3 linked regions of the Homo sapiens genome follow. The protein of the gene in region 2 binds, or shares a complex with, the protein of the main gene of each other region. Each region holds a gene or a part of one and is shown on either strand. Other genes may lie near its edges. A codon is read from its position in the direction of its gene.

Evidence for each region. Proteins that work in one complex are often made in the same cells at the same time.
Region 1: the proteins of MAPK10 (region 2) and SH3BP5 are in contact, whole or in part, in a crystal structure (PDB 4H3B), measured with the Homo sapiens proteins. Residues at the interface, in NP_620448.1 of Homo sapiens: Lys121, Asp150, Ala151, Gln155, Val156, Met159, Leu161, Glu164, Arg165, Tyr168, Tyr171, Val197, Lys198, Ser199, Asp200, Cys201, Trp362 (codon at 1,259), Asp364 (codon at 1,253), Glu367 (codon at 1,244); in NP_004835.2 of Homo sapiens: Val341, Val342, Arg343, Pro344, Gly345, Ser346, Leu347, Asp348, Leu349, Pro350.
Region 3: the proteins of MAPK10 (region 2) and MAPK8IP1 are in contact, whole or in part, in a crystal structure (PDB 3PTG), measured with the Homo sapiens proteins. Residues at the interface, in NP_620448.1 of Homo sapiens: Asp150, Ala151, Gln155, Val156, Met159, Leu161, Glu164, Arg165, Tyr168, Leu169, Tyr171, Val197, Lys198, Ser199, Asp200, Cys201, Trp362 (codon at 1,259), Asp364 (codon at 1,253), Glu367 (codon at 1,244); in NP_005447.1 of Homo sapiens: Pro158 (codon at 2,266), Lys159 (codon at 2,263), Arg160 (codon at 2,260), Pro161 (codon at 2,257), Thr162 (codon at 2,254), Thr163 (codon at 2,251), Leu164 (codon at 2,248), Asn165 (codon at 2,245), Leu166 (codon at 2,242).

The regions. Positions count from the first base shown.
Region 1 is NC_000003.12:15,266,570-15,273,593, reverse strand, and holds part of SH3BP5 (SH3 domain-binding protein 5), read left to right. Parts: intron 1-214; exon of another isoform or gene 215-478; intron 479-1,733; exon of another isoform or gene 1,734-1,838; intron 1,839-3,716; coding exon 3,717-3,881; intron 3,882-7,024. UniProt on the Homo sapiens protein: Functions as a guanine nucleotide exchange factor (GEF) with specificity for RAB11A and RAB25. Inhibits the auto- and transphosphorylation activity of BTK. Plays a negative regulatory role in BTK-related cytoplasmic signaling in B-cells.
Region 2 is NC_000004.12:86,063,034-86,070,057, forward strand, and holds part of MAPK10 (mitogen-activated protein kinase 10), read right to left. Parts: intron 4,923-7,024; coding exon 4,740-4,922; intron 1,358-4,739; coding exon 1,233-1,357; intron 1-1,232. UniProt on the Homo sapiens protein: Serine/threonine-protein kinase involved in various processes such as neuronal proliferation, differentiation, migration and programmed cell death.
Region 3 is NC_000011.10:45,895,644-45,902,667, reverse strand, and holds part of MAPK8IP1 (C-Jun-amino-terminal kinase-interacting protein 1), read right to left. Parts: intron 4,584-7,024; coding exon 4,478-4,583; intron 4,273-4,477; exon of another isoform or gene 4,197-4,272; intron 3,623-4,196; exon of another isoform or gene 3,577-3,622; intron 3,217-3,576; exon of another isoform or gene 3,133-3,216; intron 2,531-3,132; coding exon 2,216-2,530; intron 689-2,215; coding exon 607-688; intron 297-606; coding exon 1-296. UniProt on the Homo sapiens protein: The JNK-interacting protein (JIP) group of scaffold proteins selectively mediates JNK signaling by aggregating specific components of the MAPK cascade to form a functional JNK signaling module. Required for JNK activation in response to excitotoxic stress.

The DNA.
Region 1 (7,024 bases), on a different chromosome or scaffold from region 2:
TTCTGTGGGTTAAATGTGGAATGAGGCCTCACATTAGTTGTACCTGTGATATGGCAAGGCAAACATGTATCCTATGTCACTGTACAGGAGAAGGAATCTCGCAGAAACTTCAGACGCTTGTCCGGAATTTGACAGCACATGTTCTTCTCAAAGGCAGCTTCACATGGGCTTCCTCTTTTCCTTTGTAGAGATCTGGTTCTCTTATTTGGAACTCATCAGATACATGGCAGAGGGTGTGAAGAGGTGCTGGGCCCGTGGTACAGCAGCCACCTTTCAGAAGGCCGTCAAAAGAGCATCTTTTCTTGCTTGAAGAAATAAGGGATTCATAACTGAAGCAGAGAGAACTGGGAGAAGAGAGTTTACCCTTAAATGTTGCTGAATTGAAATACTAAAAAATTCCTAAAAAGGCAAATACAAATCCCATTTTAGGATCCTGTGGGATTCATCCTGTCTCCTGGAGTTGGTGTGAAGCATATAGGTAGGAGAGGCCACCTATGGGTAGGGGGTGGAGTGGCTTTTAAGGTGACAGGTTCCCTCTGCTTCCTCTCGTTCCCAGCAGCTTGGCCTGCGGAGGCCCTGCAGGGCTGTCCTCACATGAAAGAACTAAGAACCACTAATGGGCCTGGAGGCACGAGGTGGGGCAGGGGTTGGGGGGGTGAGTTGGTCAGCTCTAGGGAGGGTGGGCATCCTTGTTCTCCTTGTGTAGCTGAGGCACACCTGAGTGGAAGTGGGCGACTGGTCCCAGGGCCACATGGTGAGTCCACAGCAGGGGCAGGTCCCTGGGCCACTTTGGTTGAAGGTTTAGCCTGGCATTCATTCAAGGTCTTCACTGGAGTCCTTTTTAAAAATTTGATCTGAGGTATCATCGAATCTCCTACAGGCACTCTGTTTTGTAATGTCTTTATCCTACAGGCACTCTGTTTTGTAATGTCTTTATCCTACAGGCACTCTGTTTTGTAATATGTCTTTATCCTACGGGCACTCTGTTTTGTAATGTCTTTATCCTACAGGCACTCTGTTTTGTAATGTCTTTATCCTACAGGCACTCTGTTTTGTAATGTCTTTAGAGTCTCAAATCCTTCCTTCTGTCCCCCACCTCATCAGCCCATGTTTTCAAATCATTTGTGTCCTTAGTCCTGAGTTCGGGATCCTCCTCCTTTAAGAGGCCTTCCTTGGTTCTTTGTACTGGAAATAATTTCTCCTTCACATTCCCTGCCATTCCTCCCTTCCTGCTGTGGCACTGTCACATACAGCGTTGTATTACAGACTTCTGAGTGTCCACTCCATGCTTGGTTCGGGTCTCCATCTGATTGTCATCGTCGCCTGGAGGGCTGGGTCTGGGTCTGGTATGCAGTACACAATCACAGAGTGCTCGGGAAAAGCTGTTCTTTGCCTTGGGGGCTGGCGTGCTCTGAGTCTCTGATTTTTTTGTTCCCCCTTCTTTAACCTTCTTCACAAAGCGTCCTCAGCCTGTGGTTTCTGAAGACTTCCTCGAAGTCATGCAAGAATTGCTTGGGGAAGGGTGGGGTCCCTGTAGTTCCCCTCTTCCCGAGTCCCAGGGGCTGCCTTAGGGACGTCCCACCAGGGCTTATGTAACTGACTTGGGGATGTGGTTAACCGAGGGAGGGTGGTGGGACGAGGGAGGGTGGTGGGACGCTGCAGAGGCGGGTTTGTGGCTTCTACCCTGCTGGGGAATTCAAGGTGAGCCTGTAGAGTGGTGACTGTGATGTTTCAGTGCTGATTTCTCATGCAGTCACACAGCTGCCATCACATGGCCCATCTTGGGGTAAAGGTATCTACTGTCCACAAGAAATAGAATTGGAATCGCCTGTATAATTGTAAGTTTCCCTGTGGTCACAGTAAAAAAGGAAAGATGGGGAGAGATGAAATGGTGAAATTAATTTTTTTTTTTTTTGAGACAGAATTTCGCTCTTGTCATCCAGGCTGGAGTGCAATGGCGTGATCTCGGCTCACTGCAACCTCCACCTCCCAGGTTCAAACGATTCTTCTGCCTCAACCTTCCGAGTAGCTGGGACTACAGGCGTATGCCACCACACCCGGCTAATTTTTGTATTTTTAGTAGAGATAGGGTTTCGCCATGTTGGCCAGACTGGTCTCAAACTCCTGACCTTGTGATCCACCTGCCTCAGCCTCCCAAAGTGCTGGGATTACAGGTTTGAGCCACCGTGCCCAGCCTCTGTGAATTTAATCTTTAAATTTTATTTATTTAAGAAGCAGGGGCTCATTGTGTTACCCAGGTTGGAGTGCAGCGGCATAATTGTATTTCACTGTAACCTCAAGCGGTCTCCTGCCTCAAGCTCCCAAGGAGTGGGGAATACAGCCATGTGCCACCATGCTCGGATAATTTTTTAATTTTTTCCAGAAGTAGGGTCTTGCTATGTTTCCCAGGCTGGTCTTGAATACCTGGCCTCAAGTGGTCCTCCTGCCTTGGCCCCCCAAAGTGCTGGAATAGAGGTGGGATCCATTGCACCCAGCTGAAATTAATTTTAATAATATATTTAATTTAATTTAATATATCCAAAATATTATTTCATCATATAATAAAAATTATTGAGATATTTAACATTCTTTTTTTTTTGTACTAAGTCTTTAAGATTAGGGATGTCTTACATTCAATTGGGATTAATCACTTTTTTTTTTTTTTTTTGAGATGGAGTCTCACTCTGTCACCCAGGCTGGAGTGCAGTGGTGCAATCTCGGCTCACTGCAGCCTCTGCCTCTTGAGTTCAAGTGATTCTTCTGCCTCAGCCTCCCAAGTAGCTGGGATTATAGGTGCCCACCACCATGCCTGGCTAATTTTTGTGTTTTTAGTAGAGATGGGGTTTCACCATGTTGACCAGGCTGGTCTTTAATTCCTGACCTCAAGTGATCCGCCTGCCTCCCATAGTGCTGGGATTACAGGTGTGAGCCACTGCACCTGGCTGGGATTAATCACATTTTGAACAATCAGTAGACACATGTAGTGGGGGCAGCTCTAGACGTGGTGGTCAGCTACAGTTGGTATTGGTTCTCCCACCTGATGCTCCTTGAAAGCAGGGACCGTGTTGTGTTAATTAATTAGGTCCTTCTCTTTGCCTGCCTGGTGCCATACTTGGCCTGTCGCTGGTGTCAGTGGGTGTGAGTTGAGTGGGAGACTGTCTGGCAGAGTGACAGTGCTGGGCTGGAACTCATACTGGCTGGAGTCTGGCACAGCTCTGCATCTAGTCAGCTGTGTGATCTCAGGAAAGGCTGTGTCCTCTCAGCTAAGGTCCCCCTTCTATAGAGTGAAGTCTTTGGACCATGATCTCTGGGGGCCTTCCTGGTTCTGACTTGCCATGAATTGAGCCACAGATCTGGGCAGGGAAGGTGACAGGCCTCGAGTGAGGCAGAGCTTCTGAGAAAGGCTGTGGGGTTGGCTGTACCTGTCCCACGATGGGCTGGTTTGCCATGTCAGGTTCTGGCCAAGGGCTGATGTGTTTATCTCATCCATTGGGCCCAGAACTGTGGAAATTGTTCGCTCACTGATTTGTTGCTCACTCCCCCATCAGGGGTCCATTGCCCTGTCTGGCATCTATGAGGACCTGTGGGTGCCAGGAGTGAAGAGGCAGAGATGAGCTTGTCCTGGTCCTTGGGATGCTTATTTTTTGAAAGGTAAAATGGACCATGGGGAGCCCCTGCCATTTTCTGAGGCCTCATGAGGATTCTTTCTCACACAGGCTCAGCTGGAAGCTCAGAAAGCCACGCAGGACTTCCAGAGGGCCACAGAGGTGCTCCGTGCCGCCAAGGAGACCATCTCCCTGGCCGAGCAGCGGCTGCTGGAGGATGACAAGCGGCAGTTCGACTCCGCCTGGCAGGAGATGCTGAATCACGCCACTCAGAGGGTATGAGTCATGGCCGGGTGTGCTGTGGGGGTGTGCGCGTGCATGCGCGCTGGCTTCCCCTGAGCGGAGGTAACAGACTCGACTCCCAGGCATGTTGCCTGAAAACACCCTGAAAATCACAGGTTGTCATCTCCGTATGATCTCTTGGCTGCGCTTGGTACGAAGCCAGTGCTCCAGAATGAGTCACAGTGTCTCTCCGTGACAGCGAGAGCTGCTCCTTCCCTTATGTTGCTTGAGGTTTGTCTGGTTTGGGTCATCCCCAGGGGGTCTTGACTGGACTCAGGCTTCCAGAGGGACGAGGTTTTCCAGGGTTTGCTCCCATGGAACCCCAGCAATACTGGCTGGGTTTCGAATCTGTGATGGGGAGACCTTGATGAACAGCCCTAAATGGGGGCTGCACTTCGGGTATGTGCTGTCGGAGGAAGGCAGGGGTCATGGCGGATTAGACCAGAATCAGGTGTGTACTTACGACAGGCCTTCTGGGCTGGGATTCAGGGAGTTGACAGGCACAGAGGAAGCGGACTGTGTGTGATCCTTACTCACAGCTTGGCTTGCTGGGTTTTATGTCATTATATTGGGTTCTTTACTGGCTCTCATGACCACCTCTCTGACTGCGTTACTCAGAGCCAGAAATGGTGTGCCTTAGTCTGTACAGGCCAAGACAAAATACTAAACAAAATACCATAAACAGGGTAGTTGGTAAACAATAGAAATTTATTTTTCACAGCTCTGGAGGATGAGAAGTGCATTGGTAGGTAGGACATTGGTAGATTCAGTGTCTCATGAGGGCCTGTTTCTTGGTTCACAGATGACCATCTTTTCCATGTCCTAACACGGTGGAAGGGGTACATGAGCTTATAAGGTCACTAATCTCATTCATGATGGTTCTACCCTCATTACCTCATCACTTCCCAAAGGCCCTATCTCCAGATACCCTCACACTGGGGATCAGTTTCAACATAAGAATTTTGGGAGGACACAAATGTTCAGACCATAGCAGCTAGGGACAGTTCTTGGCTCAGCAGTACTTGGTTACCCCTGCCTAACTCTATCGGGTTTCTTAGAAGTCACGCAGAATGTTCCTGGATACCTCTTCCCCCTTCCAGGCTTGGCTCCTGGGCTGCCCAGGCTCATGTTCCTGGTATCCCCCCACACCAGCCTGGGTCCATTGTGCCCCTCTGCATTCTCTGTCTAGATTCCCAGCGCCTGGAAAACGAGTGTAGGGCTGGTTTGCTGCAGGGTGGGTGGGTGAGCTGACCTGTGGCTTCAGCAGCTCCAATAAGACCCTGGACGGCGCGGGTACGGGGTTGCAAGAGGTCTTGGTGACTCCTTGAGAAAGCCGTCTGGGGGACTGGATTAGAAAAGTCAGCAGGTTAATGCCAATAGGATTTCCCTTTTAAATGTCACCTGCCACAGTGGCTCAAGTCCTGGGGGATCTGATAATTAAAGATGGCCTTGTGCTTCCTTAAATAGAAAGCTTGGCACACAAATGACTTCAAGAGTCAAATCCGCGTTGACTTTACGCACCTCTCCCTGCAGCCTGAGACTCTCGGCTGAGCTTGGCTTTGTGTGGCCTTGCGCCTCCTGCCCCCTAGTGGGCGTGATGCTCACAGAGCTAGACGTGGGCTAGAAACAACTTTTCTGGGTCATCTCGAGAAAAATGGAAGGGGTGGCTGGAAATCTTGGAAGTTCACAAGCCAAAGCCCGATAGATATGAAAAGGACAAAATGTAAGGTAGCTTCTTCCAAGAAATTAGCTGAAGGGCCACTTTTCCTTTTTGCCCTTCTTCCACCCCAGCTGGAGACCCATGTCAGCCTATAAGCAAGCATTTCAGAAGTCATTTAATCTGTTGTTTAAAGATAAACAAACCATGCTTCTGCTTTGTGTATCTCTCATTTTTAAGTCCCAGGGCCCCAGTGGATAGTGGGTGGCCTCCCAAGGAGTGGCATCCCCAGACCTCCACACTGTATAACTCAGGGCACCGTTCATACCACAGACTTTGGGAATAGCGCTTTTTGGAGTTGTGCAGTGCAAGACCTGTGGGGCTATACAAGATGGCCCTGTACTCCTGAGGTCATGAGGGCTTCATAGGGCCCTGGGAGGGCCAGCTGATATGTGCCTTCTCTGTGGCCACTGAAGGGAAGGGCCCATTTGGTTTTCTTGGGCTTGGGGGCAACCTCTGCAGATTGGCAGGTGTTCCGGGTCACATGCCAGGATTTCCACCTTTGAGCTGATATTCCTCTTCCCAGATCCCTTCACAGTTGCATAGGCTGGAAATGCCCCTCATTGAACAGATGAGTTAAAAACAGACACCAGCAAGAGACAAAAGCCTGTGGCAAAGCTTTCCCCCATCACGTCCCTGTGCCACTCAGAATTTCAGCGTGCAGAGCAGGCTCTCCGAATGTAATGGATGATGCAGAACATAATTCTTTCTCCAGGACACACACTTGCATGGTTGGCTTTGAAACAGTGTCGAGTAACTGGGAACTCTCTGGACTTAGCGTTTCCCCCAGTGGTGCTCATGTTGACCCCTCCTAGAGCCTCACGGGCCTGGCATGCTCAGCCAGCTGAAAGCTGTGTGATCAAAGGGCTAGAGAATGTCTCCTCCCTTGTCTGCCTTCTGGGTACTCTAGGATGCTTGTTTCTGTAGAACAAGGGAGCTTCATCTCACCCTCTTCTTCCAAAGTATTACTTAAGGGTCTAATAAAAGAAAATTCCGTGCTCAGAAAGGCCCAGGGCTGTCTTGAAGAAATGGCAGTGGCTTGGACTACACGATCCCTCCAGGCACAGCGGGACACTGGGGTTCCCACGTAACGTGCCCAAGATTATCTATGCGGCCCCTCACACTTCCTGTGGTGACATCAGGCAGCCACACTTGGAGCCATGGCTGAAGCCGATATACTAGGAGGTGGCAGCAGCCCTGGTGTGCTCTGTTAGGCCACATGCAGTGGCACAGACAGGGACAAAGGATCAGTTTTCTGCTTAGTGCTGGGGTTGATGAGGACTCTGGAAAATACAAGTAGCTTGTGGCAGAGCTGCCAACCTTGTAGTTGAGCAGCCTTCCTTGGGGCACAGGGCCTGGGGTCCCTGCTGCTCTCCAGCTGGGGAGCTTGGGCAGCATAGGACCCCTTCAGCCTCAGCTG
Region 2 (7,024 bases):
TTAAACAAAATGTAGTGCAGTCTTCACACTTGGGAGATTCATTAATCACTTAAGTGTTTTCTCTGAAGTTTTTAAATGCTTAAAGATTGGGTTACATTATGAAAAGGACCTGTTTAATATTGTGTCTGTAAAGTTCAATTCTACCTAGTTCTCACTTTCTTTCGTATCTTCTCTAGTGAAGAATGAAGAAATGAGAATTATGTGTTTGAATCTAGCACCTCTGACATGGAAAAACACATGGTGAAGCAGAGGAAAGAAAACTGAAAGAAAGTGAAAATATCTTTAAGAATACTTTGGGGAAACAAACAGTATTTCAAATGAAAGATTAAGAACAAATCCAAACAAATGGATTGGAAGGTATTATGTAAAAAAATATGAGATGCTTTAGCACAGGTACTCTAAGAATTTGAGAAGCTTCTCATGTTTAAGGGAGAAGGTAACATTCCTGATAGAAACATTTAAAGGCAGTGCAGAAAGGAAATTCTCATCAGGAGGCCTATAGAACACACATGGGCAACAGCAAGCCCCCCTTGCCCTGCTCAGCCCTGGATCCATACAGAGGAAAGGAGAGAGGTAAAGATGAAAGAAAGAGGTTGAACAGAAGATAGTAAATGGTTGAAAAATATTTTTAAAATAGAAAGAGTTATGCTTCTGAGAAGATTCTCCATGTCTGGGTATCAGACATGGAGATACATCATACTGATCAACCTGAAGTAATGTACTTACTGAAATACCCACTTCTAGTTCATCTAGTTCATGCAAGGTTTCACAAAGCCACCAATCGTTTTAATCATCTTATAAAAGCTTTCTAATTGAAATATTCTTAAGTATCACATTTTACTAGTGGCAGGTATCTTTTCAAAAAAAAAATACAAGCTAAGCAACTTGTCCTCTGTTGTTTCCTACCACTAAGTTTGCATTAGAAGAGACTGGCAGTCAAACACACAAGAAGAAACACAAGTATTGGCAATTTAACAGAAACAAATGGTAGTGTATCATGGACATCTAAGGTTTGTAGGACTAAATCATACCCTCTTCTAGTAAGTCCTGAAAAAAATGTATTTAAAACATATGTTGAAGAAAATAGCTTTTAGAGGGGCAGATAATAGGCTTTGGACTTAGAAATTTTATAAAAATCCATTGTGCATTCTTTAGGCTTCTAGTCCTATTCAGTTTTTGCTATGAGCTATGATTTGTTTGTGGAAGCAAAGTAAAGGCAGCCTATTTCTTACCGCCTCCACTTCGGCTGGGTCATACCAGACGTTGATGTAGGGATGCTGTAAGGCGTCGTCCACTGATATTCTTTTTGCTGGGTCAATCACTAGCATCTTTGACAACAAGTCCCTGGCTTGGCTGGCTGAAACAATAAATGAGAAAAACAATTAGTAAGATTTTGATTTCAGTAAGGAAATTTGTCAGAGAGGAAATTTAAGAAAACAAAGTATGGAATAGTATCTTCCTTCCAAACATCAGGTAAATCCCTTGATGTGATGGAAAAGAAAATGCATTTTACACCTGTTTCTTTGTGTCTCTAAGCCTAAGGCTTCATTCTGAGGCTCTCCAAGGGTTGTAACACTTTGGGTATATAATTATTCACGCAAACTTCTTAGTAAAATGTATCAACCTGGAGAGTTTATGTAAGCAAAGTCATCTTCTTTGGTAACCTGCATGAATATAGGATAAACAGAATAAAGAGCACAGAGTGCAAATGCATGATGTTCAACAAATGTGTGGACGGCTGTTTGAAGTTAATCAACACGTGTGTCTCTATATTCTTATTTATACAACGGAATTATCAGAATTTTAGTATATAAATTGACTTAAGAGTTTGTATCATACAAATTTTTCTTTTCTTTTTGTTTTTGTTTATTTATTTATTTATTTATTTTTGAGACAGGGTATCCCTCTGTTGCCAGGCTGGAGTGTAGTGGAATGATCACAGCTCACTGCAGCCTGGAACTCCTGCGCTCAAAGGATCCTCCCATCCCAGCTTCCCGAGTAACTGGAACTACAGGCATGCACCACCATGCCTGGCTATTTTTTCTTTCTTTCTTTTTTTTTGTAAAGATAAGATCTCCCTACATTGCCCAAGCTGGTCTCGAACTCTGGGCTCAAAGATCCTCCCACCTCAGCCTCCCAAAATGCTGGGATTAAAGGAGTGAGCCACTGCTCCCAGCCACAAATTTCTTATATACATAAAAACAATCAAAGAATTGAAGTGATAGAAATAATATCATTCAACTACTGAATTTTATTTTAACATTCTGTAATCATCAGGTATTTTTAATCAATGGAATCATGACTTGATGAAATCCAGTAGTTAAAGACTGAAGCCAGTCTAATGCTACACCAGACACTAATGAGAAACTCTATATTATGTAAAGGTTATCATAATTAATTTTATGGTTGTGGGCAGTAACAGTTATAAAATTATATGGTGATAGCTATTTATTTAGTAAGATTGTTAAAAGACACATTAATTTTAACCTCTAAAAATATGTAAATTTTTTAAATTATTATACTTTAAGTTCTGGGATACATGTGCACAACATGCAGGTTTGTTACATAGGTATACACATGCCATAGTGGTTTGCTGCACCCACCAACCTGTCATCTACATTAGGTATTTCTCCTAAAGCTATCCCTCCCCTAGTCTTTTACATAAAGTTTTAACAGAAATGAATATCTCAAATCAATATTGTTACTCAACTGATCTGAAAGTTGAACCGTGAAAATATTCAGTTTATTCTAACTATATGGTAAAACATCAAATTAAAGATAACAAAATTTAAATGGATTTTTCAAAAAATCAACATAGATGACTCTGGATACATATCAATTTTTATTTAATCAATTTTTCAGATTAAAACAACTTGGCTAATTCTACAAATTTGAAAATTATATAAAATACAAAAATCAGGAAATAATATCTAACCCCACTAGCTAGAGGCAATGACTGTGATTATTGGCATATTTTTTCTAGTGCCGTTCATGTATTTTTCACGTAATATTAACCATACTATAGTTAAAATGTAGCAATTAATTTTTTACCTGTAAGTATTTTCTTGGTAATTACATCAATAAATATATCTTTTAATTTTCTGAACAAATATGAAAAATCACTAGTTAAACTTGAGAATTTTTTATTTCTATTAATCATTTTTCTGGGAAACTCAATCCTAGAAACTGATTATCATTACTTTCAAATTAAAACTCTGTACCGCACAGGAATAACAAAAATACAGAAATACTTATACATTAATTCAATATTTAATTTTTCTCATTGCCAATGGCCTCCTAATAGCCTAACAGGGCTGTGTTTATTTATTCATTGCTTTAAAGACCTCTTTAATTTGTAACTGATTTTACATCCAAATTCATGTACCATTCTCATAAGATTCTCTCATCAAATCTATCCATTTTTCTGCTCTTAGAAAGGGCTGGGGTTAGCCGGGCGTGGTCGTGGCTGACACCTGCAATCCCAGCACTTTGGAAGGCCGAGGCAGGCAGACCACGAAGTCAGGAGGTCGAGACGATCCTGGCTACCACGGTGAAACCCCATCTCTACTAAAAATACAAAAATTAGCTGGGCGTGGTGGCGGGCGCCTGTAGTCCCAGCTACTCGGGAGGTTGAGGCAGGAGAATGGAGTGAACCTGGGAGACGGAGCTTGCAGTGAGCCTAGATCGGTATCCCGGGCGACAGAGCGAGACTCTGTCTCAAAAAAAAAAAAAAAAAAAAAAAGAAAGGGCTGGGGTTACAATGGATTCTTCATGAATAGGGTCATGAACTACACCAATACAAAATCATCTTGCTAAGAAACAATACTATTTTTAGGAAACAATATGGGAAAATGTTTCAATGCTTTATCTTTCATTCTTTCATTTGAAAGCAAATGTGTTATGCTCTTTTCCAAACACAGTAGAATACATTCTTCTCTTTGGTTATTTGTATATTAAGATTATTTATAATTTGCCAATTTTATATTAAAAATTAAATTCAATAATCAAATATGCAAACTAGTTTATCATTTACAAACATAATTGCAGAGATTCAAATTGATTTAAAAAGTAAACTCAAGAAAATTGGAATTACATTATGAAGTATAATATATATCTATTTTTTGAGACGGAGTCTTGCTCACTCTATCTCTAGGCTGGAATGCAGTTGCCCGATCTCGGCTCACTGCAACCTCTTCCTCCTAGGTTCAAGCGACTCTCCTGCCTCAGCCTCCTGAGTAGCTGGGACTAGAGGTGTGTGCCACCATGCCCAGCTAATTTTTTTATATTTTTAGGAGAGACGCAGTTTCACCATGTTGGCCAGGATGGTCTGTCTCGATTTCCTGACCTCTTGATCCTCCCGCCTCCGCCTTCCAAAGTGCTGAGGTTACAGACTTGAGCCACCGCCCCCGGCCCTGAATATCCAGACAATTCTAAAATCCGTGGCTACTCCCCTTTGTAGGAACGATCTTTGAAGAAATATTTCTTTAACTTGAGGCTGTGCCAATTAAAGAATTGATCAATGTTTTAGGTGATGGGTTATGCTAATTGCTCTGATTTGACCATTATACCTCTATACATGTTTCAAAAATACCACCCTATATCCCACAAAAATGTACGATTATCATGTGTCAACTAAAAATAAAAGGGAACAAAGAGAAAGAGATAGAGGTCTCTATACTGTGTGCTTGTTTGGCCCGTCACCCTCATAGTTGTCCTCAAGTCATTCCTGAAGGGCATACCTTTGAGTTTATTGTGCTCGGAGTCCGCTGGGAAGAGGGAATCTGGGAAGAGTTTGGGGAAGGTGAGTCCCGCATACTTGGGCCGATTCTCCACATAGTTTCTTACTGTGGGTTGCAATTTCTTCATGAATTCTGGACATGGTGTTCCTAGTTGTTCAATTACCTTATTCCACTGGTCAATATCTGAGAATTGAACAGTTAAGGGAAAAAAGAAGAGCAGACCACTAGCCTTTCAACAATTGGGAGACTAACTCTTCTCAAAGTCCTCAACAGTCATTAATGCAACTGTAGTTTTAATAAGCAACAAAGAATGAAAATATAAAATCAGACTTGCAGGCTATGAGTCTTCTTGAAATTTTAAATTCACTTTTGAAACTTATATACTTTTGGAAAACTAGCAATTATTTAACAAAATAAGATATCATGAAATAGTCTTTGGGGTGTACAGATAAAAAGTCATTCAGATAACACAAGATGAATCTCATATTCTGCAGATAAACTTCTATATAAATCATGTGATTCAGAAGAAAAATATATAATGACACATCATAGTGACATTTTTATCCTGAAGTTACCTCAATTATTTATATTTTTAAAATGACAAATACACAAATATTTTAGATTATATTCATTTACATTTTCCTAAACTATCTTTAAGATATTTTTTCTTCTCTAAAAATCTGGAATTTTTTTCTATTTTTATGCATATCAACATAACTTTTATAGTAAAACAACTCATTAGTTCTTTGTCAGATTCCTAAAAATCATATTTATTAAACAAAGAAGCCACCTATTTCATACCTATTGTTTTACTGATGATATCACTGAATATTGTTTTCAATGAAATATAAGGGTGAACAGAGGAATATTCAATTTAAAACAACAGATTTCTATCCAAGTACATCCAAGTTTAGAAAGTACATTAAGCATGGGGAATACCACAGAAAAAATATTACCTCTCTATGAAAATTAATACCCTTTTAAATTGGAGCTAGCTCTTTTTGCAGACATACTCAATGATTGAGATTCTCTTTTTTATCTGTCATTAATATTCGATATATCAGAGCCTTGATAATGATAAACACCATCTACTCTGAAGAACCAACTGGAAACAACTGATTTAAACAGATTTCCTCGCCATGTGCCAGTGAATAATAGAGATCTTGGAAATTCCCTTAAATCCAATACTGCAAGCAGTATTCTCTCCTACATTGCTTATTCTTCTACAACTGTTCTTTGGTGTTAAGTTAGTTAACTCATTTCCACTAAGGTAAGGTGTGACAGTTAAGGGACTCTTACCATAATATTACTTAGTTGAAGTTTGTCAAGTCTTTACTCCTAGCTATTCAAGAGGTTTGGACTGAAAAAGATTGTCAGTCCTGATTAAAGATAAACTTAACTGTATTCAACAAAAAGAAATATATAATACAAACAGTAGATAGGAGATTGAACAAAGATAAAATCAAACTAATTTGCAAATCCTTTTCTTCATCTCTATAATCTGGCTGAATAAAACTTAAATTATTACATATTCTGTCAGTTATTGGAATAAAAAATATATAACCATGGACTATGAAGATATGAAATGAAGGTGGGAAAAACAATAATATTCCTTAATAAAGCAGTAGTAATAATTAAACAAGAACATGCTTTGATAGAAGCTCATCTAATTATCATGTGCATGAGAAAATACAGCAGTAATTCAGAATCACTAGAAATAATGAAACTAAAACATTATATAAGGTTAGAGTTACAAATTACTCTTAGACATGAGCCTGTATTAATACTATGGATATAGGTAAGCTATAAGTACTTAGACATACTTAAATAGAATACATTAGTGTAGTTAAATAAAACCTAAGTGCTTGTCATTATAAATTATGAAGAGACATTTTTTAAACAGTTAGGTTAGCATGCCCTACCAAGCTATCATTTCATCATTGATCAAACTTCCTCAAAATTCTAACCACTCGATGTCAAACTTAAAATAGAGGCAAAGAAGATGTCAGATTTTCTGTAAATAAGTCATTTAACAAAGTTGGCAAAATAATCCCAACACAGTATTATATCCTAATTACATTTGCTATAATTATAAAGATATACAGTAAATAATTGATTTTAAAGAAGTACTCCCAAAACAAAAAAAACTGATACTTTTATATTAAAGTTTAAGGAGAGTCAGATATTCTGGAATTTGTTAAATAAGAATTGTTAAAATGTTTCTTGTAATAAATCATAATTAGAATCTAGAGACACACTCAGCGCTCTTTCCTACCTTAGGTTGC
Region 3 (7,024 bases), on a different chromosome or scaffold from region 2:
CAGGAAGGCGGAGGTGGGCTCTGCAGCGTCTGGGGGCCTCTGCACTGGGGTCAGGTAGATCTCCTCAGTGGCCTCTAGTCGCACATCGGCCTGGTAGTGGATTCGGTCTCGATGCGAGTGGCCCCGACCCCCAGGCGGGGCAGCAGGGGGACCACCCGGAGGTGCCATCTGGGTGGCTGTGCTGCGGCGGCAAGGGCTGTCGGTGGAGGTGCCTCGATCTGTGGTGGGGGCGGGGCCGCTCTGGGGGGGCAGCTCATCGCTCAGGCAGATGTGTTCATGCGGTGGTGTCTGCTCCCCTGGAGAGCAGGCAGGTCATGAAGGCAGGGGCTCTCTCCCAACTCCCAGCTACCTGCACCTGCCACTCTCAGCTTGGTGACACAGAAACCAAGACAAAGCCTCCCTGGGCAACAGGCCCTTCGCAGGCTCTGGGGCCAGTCAACTCACTCATGCCACCACTGATCTCAGCCCCTGGATGGGCTCGTGCAGGGATGTGGGTGGGCAGTTCACCTCTACTCAGCCCTTTGGAGACTGTAGGGTTTGCTCTCTGTAGTGGGGACTGAGTCAGGGCAGGCGGAGGTCCAGGTAAGGAAGAGGGCCCTGACTTACCTGTCTTCAGGGGTGAGGATGATCGAGACACCCGATCCTGCCAACTGTGCTTTTTGCCCAGAGAATTATTATTCAGTGTGTCCTGTGCAGGGAACAAAAGGCTCTTGTGATGGAAGTGGTCAACAGTGCCCGGCACAGGGAGGCCCCGGCCCTGCCCCCTCAGGCCATCCCTAGGGCCATTTGCTGTGTCCACCCCGCCTCCACTGTCAAAGGCCTCACTCGTAACTCTCCTCTGGAGCAGGCAGGAAGGGTGGCAAGTCACAGCCAGGCTTGCCGGCTCTGGATGGCCCTCCGCCTTGCTCAGGGAAGCTGGCCAACCCTCAGGGAGATGCTCTTATCAGCCTTAACAAAGGTGGTGATGGCCAATGTGTGTGGTGGCAAGAGGGGGAGGAGGCAGGGGAGAAGAGAAGCAGGAGCTCTCTGGAGACACAGTCAGACCCCCAGTCCCAGGTACTGAGGGTTACTTGGAAAATGCTCAAATCCAGCCCAAGTCAGAGACAGGTGACTCTCTGCTCTGGAGCTTGGGAAGTTATGGCCTAGAAGGGGTGAGGACCTTCTGGTAGAGCCTGGAAAAAGCACAAGGAAGGGTCTCCCTAGCAGCTGGCCTGGGGGACCAGGATGAATCATCCCAGTGACAAATCCATAACAGAGTTTTCCTGCACCCCCCACCACAGTGGCATGAGACTGAGGAGTGACAGATGCAGTTGTCAGCAGCCCTCCTTCCTGGATCTCCTGGGCTGCCCATTCTACATTCTCAGCCCTGGGACCCCTCCCCACAATGCCCACACAGGGCTCCCTCCACTCCACGGAGGCTCCCTCCCCTGGGAGCTCTCTCCCAAGCCCTCACGTTCCTGAGCCGGGCTGCCAAAAGCCATTCACAGGATCCTGGGAAAGGGACCAAGCCTTTCCCCGCAGCCCCAGCCGCCCCACCTCCCAGGAGCTCCTTGCCTGCACCGCTCCCGATGGGCCTGGAAGACAAAGGGCCACAGCCAGCTCCCCCAACCCTATTCAACTCTCCTTGGCATCCAGCCACCCTCCCAGGGGCCCTAGGTCCCCAACTTAGCCAAGCAGCTCCATCTCCCATTCCTCCCCCCTGCCTTCTGGGAATTCGCAGCTGCCCAGATCTTAAACTGGCTGTGGCCCCTGAGCTTCCCATCCCCACCTCGCCACGATCTCCCACGGCCTCCCCCACGATGACCATTTCAGATGCCCTTTTCTCCAGGCCCTGCTCCTGCTCCACTTTCACCAGGAGCCCCATATCCTAAAGGAGAAACCCTGTCACAGCCTGAGGTCCCAGGCTCCAAACCCTTCGAACCCCTCAAAGCCTCATTCTCTTAATTCCCTACTCCTCTCCTAACCCCAGTCCTTCCCTCCTTCAATCCCGCCTCAAGGCTCCAAGCCCGGCCAGCTGGACTCAGCCCCCTCTTCGTAAGGATGGTTCTGCCCGCTCCTCGGATCCCAACACCGGGAGCGAGCCACCGCGGCCCCTATGCAGGCGCTGTCCCCAGGCACTGGACCCGTGGGTGCCCCTTCCCGCTGCAGCCCCTCTGCGCTCCCCCTCACATCTCCGCGGCGGCCCAGGGCGCCGCCCCCCACGTTGGCGCCTCACCTGAGACCGCGGCACCTGCGGAAAGAGGTTGAGCGTGGTGGGCCGCTTGGGCCGGTACGTGTCCCCGCTGCCCGGGCCCTGGCTCTGGCCTTGGCTCTGGCCCTGGCCGCGGGACGCCGGCTCCTGGCCGGACTCGGCCTTGGGCGGCCCCGCTCCCGGCCGCCGGGCCGCGCGCTCCTCGTCGTCGTCCTCCTCGTCGTCCTCGGCCCCGGGAGTGTCCCCCGTCGCGTCGATCAGGTCCATCTGCAGCATCTCGGCCTGCAACCGGCTCCCCGCGCCGCCGCCGCCCGCAGAGAGCAGCCCGGCGCGCGGGGGCTGCACAGCGCACGGAGGGGCGTCAGGGGGCGGGGCCGGGGCGGGGCCGAGGCCGCTTGCACCGCCCCCCGCCCGGGCGAGTCCATTCTGTGGCGCGAAGGGGGCACGAGGGGAGCCGAGCAGGGGCCGCCGGAGACTGGGGCGCTCTCGCCCGTCCGCCGCGAGGAAGCGCGAGGCCGCCGCCTCCCCGATCCAGCCGTGCCTCTGACGGCCAGCACCTCCCCACAGTCCCCACCCCGGACTCCTTGCGCCCTCCCGTTCCCCTGGCAACGGCCGGTGACCTCACCGGGGTTGTAAGCCGAGCCCAGAGTGAAGTCACCGCTGTTGCTATGGGGACTCAGTGGTCGCCAAGGAGTTCGGGGTGGGGTGGGCAAGGGATGGGGGTTGGGGAAATAGTATTTGAAGGGGTCTTGAGGAAAACTGGAAAAACTGAGGCTCAGCCAAGCAAGGAACGGCGGAGACCTGAGAGGGATGGGAAGGAGACGCCGAGGGGGAGGGGCGAGCGGGGGCCAGGAACCAAGGCGGTGGCAGCCGCGCCCTAAGCCAGCTGGCCCGGGGCCCCTCCAGCCCTAGATCGGTCCTCCACGAGCCTGCCTTGAGGATGCAGAGCCCCATCTAGCTCCAGTTCTGCCGCCAACTCCCTGGCACCTTGGACAGATCCCCTGATCCTTCAGGCCCCCTCATCAGTTGAGTGGGGATAACACTACTGCCTCCCAGCCTCTGAGAGAGCTGAGTATTCACTGGAACGTGTGTGAAGCCCGCTGGAGCTTGTCTGAGGCCCCTTAGGGGCACACCTCTGGCCAGTAGTGCCTGGGGCCCCTGCCTAGCTCGGAGGCAACCCTCTCCAAGGCTCTGCTGGTGCAGCTGGGGGAGAGGGCAGGGTGAGAGTCCAGAACAGGTGCCTGACCTCTGAGAAGCTAAGTCAGGGCTCTGAGACCATTCCCCAAATCTAGAGGCCTCTGCCTCTTCCTGGCCTGGCCAGAGAGTGGAAGGTTGGGGTACTGGGGACTAGGGGATTATCCTCACCCCTTGGTTTCCTCTTGCAGAGCTTACTGAGTCTCTGGGAGTAGCAGGAGGTCAACACAGAGACAGGTACTCCCTCCCCAAGGCACACCTCACGCTCCTATGGTAACCACTCTCCTGACACCGTATCTGGCTACCCGCCCTCTTGGGGGCTCAGAGGAGCTCTGGGCTCTAAAACCTAGCCCTGTGCTCTGTCCTCCATTTCCTGGCAAGCCGGCCCCTTCTTCCTGTTCTGAAAAGACATAGTTGGGATCCCCATCTGACCCCAGTTACCCAGGTGCTGGGGACCTCCTGGCAGCATTCAGATCTTTAGGGACAGGAGAGAGCCATCTTCCCTATGACAAAGCCAAGGGGCCCAAACCAGCAGCAATGCTGGGCAAACCCCTCAGTGGGGGCCTTTAGGACTATAGGCCAGAGAGGGTCTGGGAGGCCGCGTGGTGCCATCTGTCTGGTGTAATAGCAGCCAGCAGCCACAGGAGCTATTCCAGGGGTGCCTTGGCTGTTTCTTCCTGCCCTAAAGCACTGCAGATTCCACCAGACTCCACCCTGTCTGCCTCAGGCCCTCTGCCAGGGCTGCTCCCAAAAGGATTCAGGGGTAGCCCTGAGTCTCCCTTAAGTCTGGTCCTAATTGTTACTGCCCTAGGTCTCAAGACTTCCTGGCCTCTCCCATCTCGTGGGCAGTTGAAGGAGCTACTTCCTGTCTTAGTCCCCGACAGCAGTAATAATAATAATAATACCAAATGAAATTCTGATTGTACACTCAAGACGTGCCAAGCAGTATACCTATGTTTCTTGCACATCATTTCATTTCATGAGGGTGCCAGCACAGACCTGAAACCCCCTTTGTCACTATGGGGATACCCTTACCCCTGTCCCTAGCCTTCCTGCCACCCCACTCAGGAGCTCCTGGGAGCTTGCCCTTACCCGTAAGGACAGGGTGTCTTTGCACTGTAAGCTGATGCCACACTCATCAGTGATCTCCGAGAGGTCTTCATCCTCAAACTCCTCCAGGCTGATGTCATGGGTGAGCCTGGTGGGGACAGGAAGCCAAAGTTACAACTCAGGGGCACTATGCCTGCTCACATCTCCCTGTTACCTCTTCCAGGGTGCAGCCTCTTGAAGGCCAAACACAGCCCCCAGAGGACAGGATTTGGGGTTCATCTGTATCAATGCAGGGGGTGGTCAGCAGGCAGGGAAAGAGCGAGGGGCTTGTGCCAAAAGGCAGTCCTCCTAGGGTGGCAGTGGAAGAGGAGGCTCCAGGTCACTCTGGCTCCTCCCTGGAAGCTGTCATTCTGTTGCCAACCAGCAGGCAGTGCTTAGAAGGCCCAACTGGTCAGAGCCTCCTCCCAGGGTCAAGGCAGGTGCCAAGGCCAGTTCACCATGGAGAATGTGGACTTGAGAAGAGCAGCCTGGAGTAGGGGAGCTCCCAGTGCAATCCCTGCAGTAGCAAGACCCGAGGCGCCGGCAGCAGCCTCAGAGGAGTGCCCCACGCCCCAGCTCAGGAAGACTCATGCCCCTTGAGCCCAGGGAACAAGCGAAGGAAAATCTGGTGTCAGTGTGGGTAGTTTCAGCCTATTCCAGAAAGGACTCCAGCCTCATGCTGTGCACTTGGTGGTCTCATCTCTTCAACCACAACATCTTCTCCTTATCCAGTGTAAGGACCCTGAACAGGAGGCTGCACAGATGGGGTCAGGAGAAGCCCCAGGTGGGACCAGAGGTGTTACAACCTTGGGAGACAGCTCAGAGCACCAGGGCACCAGAATACTAACCAGCTCCACTAGAACCCCCCTCTCCCTAGGCCAGCCCTGAGTCCCCACCTCAGAATGCAGGGCTGGGCCAGCCACTGCAAGGCAGCCTGTCTCTTGCTCACCTCTAGGTCCTGGGCACTCTGCCTGGCTTGCTGGGGGGGTGGTGGGGGGGTAGAACATTTAGGAAGTTGGGGAGAATGTATGAGCCTTTTCCCAAATAAGTCCAAGAAATTGAGGCACAGAGCAAGGGAAACCCACTAGTTCAAGGTCACCCAGGAGAGATGGTGGCTTAGCCCCCAGGGGAACCTAGGAGGCCCAGACTCCCTGCCACTCGCCTCATTCAGATCAGAGACCCTGAGCTCGATGGAGCTCACCCCAACTCGGTCTCCACCCCCGCCAGCCCCGGTAGCCCCTACCAGCGCTCCCATTGATCCTCCAACCAGCTGTCATTGTCTGGGCTCGAATCCATCTTCAGCACCAGCTGCATGGAGAGCCCTGCCCGGCCGGGGGGCTGCGGGGCCCCAGGGCTGCCCTCTCATGCCCGGAAGGGTGGGGGGGCCAGGGCTCAAGGCAGGGCTGGGGGCCTCTGGCCTCCACCGCTTGGGCCTGTCTTTCTGCGTCCTGCCTGCTGCAGAAGCCTGGGGAGCTCATTAAAAATAGACAGGCCAGGAGAGGAGGCTGCAGCTGCCGACCCGGGTCCCAGCCCCAGCTCTTCCCAGCGCAGCCCTCAGCTGCAGGCACCTTCCTCCCGGCTGGCCTGGCCCTTGCGCTGCTGCCGCTGTGGCCGCCTCCCTCACGGGATCAGGTTACTGCAATCAATGCCACTGGCTCCACCTGCCCTTCCAATGCCCCTGTCGGGGGCTGAGTGGCCCCCCCTCCCTGGCCCAGGCTTGTAAGTAGATGGCAGAAATCTAGGATGTTTCCCCCCAAAAGCCAGCCCTTGGTTGGCTTTAAAGGGCCAGTTCCCCAGTCAGGGTGCCAGGTGGGAGATGAAGGGGGGCTTCCCAAACACCCTAAGAATGAACACTCGGTTTGCACTGCCATAGGCTCAGCCCCCCGACCTCATCAGAGAGGCTTCTGTGGGCCCAGGCTGCATCCAAACTGGGTTTGATCTGGGCTGCCTCCTTCTGCAGCCAGAGCTTGAGCCTTCAGGACCCAGGAAGGCAGGGCCTATGGAAGCAGGAGGCACCAGAGCCACAGCTAAGGGCAGGCCAGTGTTTGGGCCCTTAGAGCAGAGCTGGAAGGGCTGCTGTGTGGTAATGAGCTTCCTCTCCCTTTGGAATGACATAAACAGAACCTGGAGGCCCCTGGAGGGCACTGCACAGAGGGGTGGGGAATGGGGGCTGGATGGACAAGGTGCCCTGTAGGGTCACGTCTGACCTGCAGCCCAAGGGTGGTGGTTCCCCAGGCCATGGGGAGGGTGTGGCTGGCCAGCTGGGGTGGAAGTGGGGAGGAGGGCCTGGCCCAGAAGCCAGAGCAGCCCTCCTCCGTCCGGCCAGGGCAGGGTGGCATCTCAGGCTCAGGGACAAAAACCCAGTGGCCAGCACCAAGTAAGTGTTCAATTCACACTGGTTGCCCAGATGGTCACCGAGAAGGCCAGTGGTGCAAAAGGGAGCCCCTGGTACTCAGATGGCATGGGAGAGCTGCAGGACCGCTGACCCAGAGGTGCCCTGAAATGCCCCTGCTCTGCCAGTGACCTCTGCACATATATATATATATATAT